Linked DNA regions of Homo sapiens: region 2 is linked to region 1. The links come from fine-mapping of genetic effects on gene expression. A gene starts in region 1. The other region holds a variant in brackets. All regions are shown on one strand. Distances are between the middles of the regions.

What was found. PIP is the estimated chance that this variant, and not a neighbour inherited with it, causes the effect.
Region 2: its variant is fine-mapped to the expression of BRCC3 in whole blood (TOPMed, PIP 0.94).

The regions. Positions count from the first base shown.
Region 1 is chrX:155,069,854-155,072,767 of GRCh38, reverse strand. BRCC3 (BRCA1/BRCA2-containing complex subunit 3) reads right to left here and starts at 1,260. Exons shown (of 11, transcript NM_001018055.3): 1 at 1,118-1,260; 2 at 425-441. The coding sequence starts at 1,240. It overlaps CMC4 (C-X9-C motif containing 4), which reads left to right and starts at 1,632. Exons shown (of 3, transcript NM_001018024.3): 1 at 1,632-2,074. It overlaps MTCP1 (mature T cell proliferation 1), which reads left to right and starts at 1,632. Exons shown (of 5, transcript NM_001018025.4): 1 at 1,632-2,074. RefSeq lists enhancers at 277-998, 955-1,004, 1,015-1,234, 999-1,720, 1,705-2,004 and a silencer at 1,345-1,664.
Region 2 is chrX:155,121,437-155,124,350 of GRCh38, reverse strand. BRCC3 (BRCA1/BRCA2-containing complex subunit 3) reads right to left here. Exons shown (of 11, transcript NM_001018055.3): 11 at 1,274-2,914. Among named protein-coding and RNA genes, the nearest start is that of BRCC3, 51 kb to the right of the region's middle. The variant C/T (reference allele first, on the strand shown) is at 1,292.

The DNA of each region.
Region 1 (2,914 bases):
GGCCAACATGGTGAAACCCCGTCTGTACAAAAAAAAAAGACAGCCGGGTGTGGTGGCGGGCACCTGTAATCTCAGCTATTCGGGAGTCTGAAGTATGAGAATCGCTTGAACCTGGGAGGCGGAGGTTGCAGTGAGCAGAGATCGCGCCACTGCACTCCAGCCTGGGCGACAGAGTGAGGCTCTGTCTCACCCCTAAAACGCAACAATTATGATAATGCTTATTAAGATGTTTATCCCATATCTCAACTGAATAGGAGGTAAGGCAGAAACCAAAGTTCAAGGTTGTATCATTAAGGGAGCCCCGGAGTGATAATGGTAATTAATTTAAGACACGATCCGGACACAATACTGCCAAAGTCGCCATAATTTTAGGTTAACAATGACTTAGAGATTATAAGATATGAGTAAACAAATACAGTCTTACCTTGTATCATCGTTCAACTAGAGTGGGAAAAAGCAAAAAACATTATTGATCACATTACGTTTGTTTGACATATATGGATGCAGATTATATGACAATTAGGTCATGTGTTCACGCACATGGTATGAAAGACTGGAGAATTACTTTAGACTGTAAACAGCTAAACTGTATTTCCTCATCCTCTTCGGCCCCTCCTCAACACAATGCAGCGGAAACTTTTGCTTCCTTCAAGCCCCGCACCTTCTGTTAGGCTCTTCGATACCCTTCAAATGCTTTGGTTGATATCTCTGCTCCCTAGACAGAAGACTCGAGGCGAGGCAAGGGGCTCTAACTGTGGTCAGCTGCTGCGTCGTAATACCCGGACATCCTCATTATACTCCAGTGTCTTTCTGACCTGCCTTGCAGTTTTGGTCAACCGGGCGAAAAGCGCAGATCTAAAGAGAAGCCCCAGGCTACAGGAGAAAGGGCAAGGCTCCCGGGGCCTGTACAGACCGCCGGGGGCTCGCAGGAGACTAAACAAGTGTCAGGCGGCCAGAAGAAACGGGGCTCCCCGCGACAGAGCTATGTAAAGGGTGTCCAAGGACCTAAATCGAGGATGCCTGTGGCCTCCGCAGCCCTGGGAGCTGCCGGCACCCACCCCGGGGACACACTGGGACTGCTCAGCAGGGTTCCATCCAGGCTAACAGACCTACTCACCTCCCCTATGCACAGCCCCATTACTTCCTCCTTCTCTGTGCTCAGAGCGTGGTTGAGACAAACGAGGAAAGCGTCAGACTCGAGATGAACCGCCTGCACCGCCTGCACCACCTGCACCGCCATCTTGGCCCGACCCTTCTCACGTCCGCCTCGGGCCCACTTGGTCCTGACCAACCGGGTGCTGCGGCGCAGCCTCCCCAGCGCCCAGCGCTGTGCGCTCCGCCCAGGCCTGGCCTTCGGCGCGCGGGTTCCTAGGGGGCGGGGCTTAGGGAGCGGGCGGGGCTGTGGGGGCGGGGCTGTGGGGGCGAGGAGGGGGCAGCGGGCGCGCGGCTGGCGCGCGGGGGCGGGCCTTGGGGCACGGGGGCGGGGCCCGCCCAGCAGCACCTGGGAAACGCCCGCGCGGTTTGGGGCAGGCGTGGCCGTCGGGGCGGAGGGCGGTGGCCGGCCGCGGTCCGGGCGTCAGGCCGGGCGGCGGGGGCGGCAGGGAGGCGGCGCTCTGGGGCCGCAGGCGGACGTACTCTGTGAGCGGCGCCCGGGCGCCTGGGCAGGCGCCTCCCGAGTACCGGCGCCCATTTTGCCCGCCCGCTAAGGAGACCCGTGCGCGGCCTACACGCTTGGGGGACAGCCCTTTAAGACGACATCTCCGCGAACGCCGGCCTCTTGAGCCAGGGGGACGCTCTTTTGAAAGTCAGTCCCAAAACAGTTAAGGTTTTATTTTATTTTGTTTTATTTCCAAGTCACAGCCCCCGAATCTCGTACAACTCTCCCTGGACCACTTCCGGTTGCCGGCCCGCGCCTCATAACTTCGGTTCGAGTGACCTCGGCCCGGGATGCCCCTCGGCTCACCCCGGGCTCACGTCGCGATCCTGGCTTGAGTGGCCCAGGGTGGGAGACCTGGAAGTTTTAGCCTAGCTGTTCTCAAGGCGGATTAATTAGCCCAAGAAACATTATATTCATGTGAGTAACCTTTTGCAGAAACAGTGTTATACTGTATCTGAAAAAGTATCACTCTTAAGCTTGGCTGCTGCTACTTTCTACAAAGGCTTTTAGGTAGCTATTTGTTGGATACAGGGAAGGGGAAATGGAGAACTTCAGTTTTTATTCAAGTTCGGATGTATCACATTAGGTATCCAGAATGCAAGTTTCCTCGGGTCTCCTTGTCTCGATGATATCAGACAGTAAAAATATATGTAAAAGTAATTTTTATTTCGAGGTATGTCAAACGTGCCAAGGATAAAAGTACAGATCTTCCAACTCACAAGTCTAGGAATCACACGTGGATTTTGAAAGCGATTCTAAATCAAAGCACAATATATGCCGTGCCGCCTCCACAGCCCGTCCGTGTTCGTGTCTTTGATTTGGTTTTCTACTTTGTGTAGTTTTGAAGCCAGGCAGGTATGGCAGTACTGGAAAGGGAACATTCCCAAGGTGCTACTTGAAGTGTTGATGCTTTGCTCTTTTCTCCCAAGTCAGTTCCAACCCAAGTCTCCCCACACATAGGGTCCCCATCCAGTGCAACGATCTGTAATGTGCACGCCAGCAGCCTCCGTTTTTACCTAACGATCTGTAAGGATCACATGGCACATCTTTCTATAATTAATTTGATCATGATGAAGGTTGGAAAATTTTCGTGTGCAGTTACATTGGACCTGTCTAAATTTTCTCTTGTTTCAATTTTATATCATATGTTATTTTCAGTTACTGTTTGTGGCTAGTATGCCCCGTCCTCATGGAGCAGGAACGGCTGTTCTTATTATTATGACATTAACATTTGGTGATGGGATATAGTGCCTTTAG
Region 2 (2,914 bases), 52 kb before region 1:
TGTTGGAAGGGAATATAGTTTAGATTGAAAACCATGATTTCAGATTTAGATATATTAATTTTTATGTGCCATTAAGACAGCCAAGTGGAGGCCAGGCACGGTGGCTCGTGCCTGTAATCCTAGCACTTTGGGAGGCCGAGGCAGGTGGATTGCTTGAGCCCAGTAGTTTGCCACCAGCCTGGGCAACATGGTGGAACCCTGCCTCTTCAAAAAAAATACAAAAAAATGAGCCAGGCATGGTGGTGCGTGCCTGTAGTCCCAGCTACTTGGGAGGCTGAGGTCAGGAGGTCGAGGCTTCAGTGAGCCATGATCATGCCACTGCGCCCCAGCCTGGGCAACAGAGTGAGACCCTGTCTCAAAAAAAATGTCCAGTAGAGAGGTGGAAATGTAGGTCTGGAGTTCAGATAGAGGCGTGGACAGATACAGATTTGTGTGTCAACTGCATATAGGTATGCAAAGATAGAGAAGTCTATGAATGAATTTGAGAAGGAACAGCTAGAGAAGAAAAGGATAGCAGGAAGGATAGCCAGAGAAGAAAATAAGAGAAACCAAGGAAGTAGATTTCAAGGAGGAGTGACCAACTGTGTCAATACTGAGAGGTTCATCAAGGATGGGAAAAGCAACTATTGACTTTCACTGTATGGAGCTCATTGGTGACTTTGGCAGGAGTAGTTTCAATGAAGTGCTGTGGACAGAGGTCACAAGGCAATGAGTTGAAATTATAGGAGATAAGAAAACAGAGAGAACAAGTATATACAGTTACCATGAGAGTCTTGGATGTGATTGAGAATAGAGAATCTAGTGTTCATAAGGGGATACAGGGTTGTGTAAAGGTAAGCCAGATTGGTGCAGCTGGGAAAATAATGATACATCCTGTTCACACCACTGTTTCTTGTGATGCTCAACACTTTTAAAGACTGGACACTGAGCTAAAAGAAACCTTGGTGGTCAACTACTCTAATCTCATTCTATACCTAAAGAAAATGAAACCCAGAAAGGGAAAAGGACTTGTGCTAAAGGTTGGCATGTAAAAATATTCCAATCGTTTTATTCCCCTCAAATTTTCTAGCACCCTTTTCTTATTTCATAAAATAGGTACCATACGTCCCAGTTCCTTACTTAAAACTTACAACTTTTCATTTTGCAATAATTATATACTTATAGGAAGTTGCAAAAATAGTACAGAGTCCCATGTATCCATTACCCAGTTTCCTCCAGTGGTACGGTTTTGTAACTATAGCACAACTTCACATCCAAGACATTGACAATAATATTATACTGCTATCTAGAC[C/T]ACAGACTTTATTCAGTATCACCAGATTTTACATGCATTCATTTGTGTGTATGTAGGTCCATACAACTTCAGCACAGGTAAAGACTCATGTGCTTAACCTCATAATCAAATGTTATAATCAACATCGTAATCATCATAATCATATAGAACTGTTCCATCAGCACAAAGGAACTCCTTGCGTCATCCCTTTATAGTCATACATACCCCACACCCCCTCCAGTCCCTATCCCTGGCAACCATTAATCTGTTCTTCATTTCAATAATTTTGTCACCTCAAGAATGTTATATAAATGCGATCATACAGTATGTGACCATTTGAGACTGGTTTTTTTTTTGTTCACCATAATACCCCTGAGGTACAACCAAGTTCTTGTATCAACAGTTAGTTCCTTTTCATTCCAGAGCAGTATTCCAAGTTATGGATGGTTTGTTTAACCATGTACCTGTTGTAGGACATCTGGGTTGTTTCCAGTTTGGGGCTATTACAAATAAAGCTCCTATGAATATTTGAGTACAAGTACAATATAGGTTTTCATTTCTCTGGAATGAATGTCCAGGAGCACAACTGCTGGGTCTTATGTTTAACTTGATTAAAAAATTATGTTTAACTTGATAAGAAATTCATAAACTCTTTCCCAGAGTGGCTGTACCATTTTACATTCCTGTCAGCAATGTATAAAATATCCAGTTTGTATCCTCATCAGTATTTGGTATTTTCACTATTTTTTCTTTAGCCATTGAGATAAGTAAGTCATAGCCTCGCTGTGGTTTCAATTTGCATTCCCTGATGACTTATGGAGTTTAACAGCTTTTCATATGCTTACTTGCCATCTATAGATCCTCTTCAGTGAAACATCTATTCATGTCTTTTGCCCATTTTCTAATTGGACTGTTTGTTTTTATTGTTGAGTTTTGTGGCCTTTTTTTTTTTTTGAGATGAGGCCTCACTCTGTTACACAGGTTGGAGTGTGGTGGTGTGATCACAGCTCACCGCAGCCTCAAACTCCTGGGCTCAAGTGATCCTCCTGCCTCCCTAGTAGCTGGGACTACTGGTGTGTGTCATGGTGCCCAGTTAATTTTTTAAAAAAACTTTTTGTAGAGACAAGAGTCTCACTATGTTGCCCAGGCTGGTCTGGAACGCCTAACCTCAAGCACTCCTCCCATCTTGGCCTCCCAAAGTGGTGAGATTACAAGCATGAGCTACCATGCCTGACTTCAGTTGAGTTTTTAGTACACTTTATATATTCCAAATTGATCAGATATATGGTTTGCAAATTCATCTCAATCTGTAGCTTATCTTTTCCTCTTCTTAAATCACAAGTTTTTAAATTTTGAAGAAGTCCAATATATCAGATTTTGTCTTTTATGGATGTGCTTTCGGGGCAAAGTCCAAGAACTTGTCACCTAGCCCAAGATCCTGAAGATTTTTCTCCTGTGGCTTTTTTCAAAGTTATCTAGTTTTATGTATCACATTTAAGTCCGTTATACATTTTGAGTTAAATTTTATATAAGATGTGAGGTTTAAGTAGAGGTTCTTTTTTCTCCTCGCCATGGGTGTCTAATTGCTCTAGCATAATTTGTCAGAAAGGCTATTCTTCCTCCATTGAATTGCTTTTTCACTTT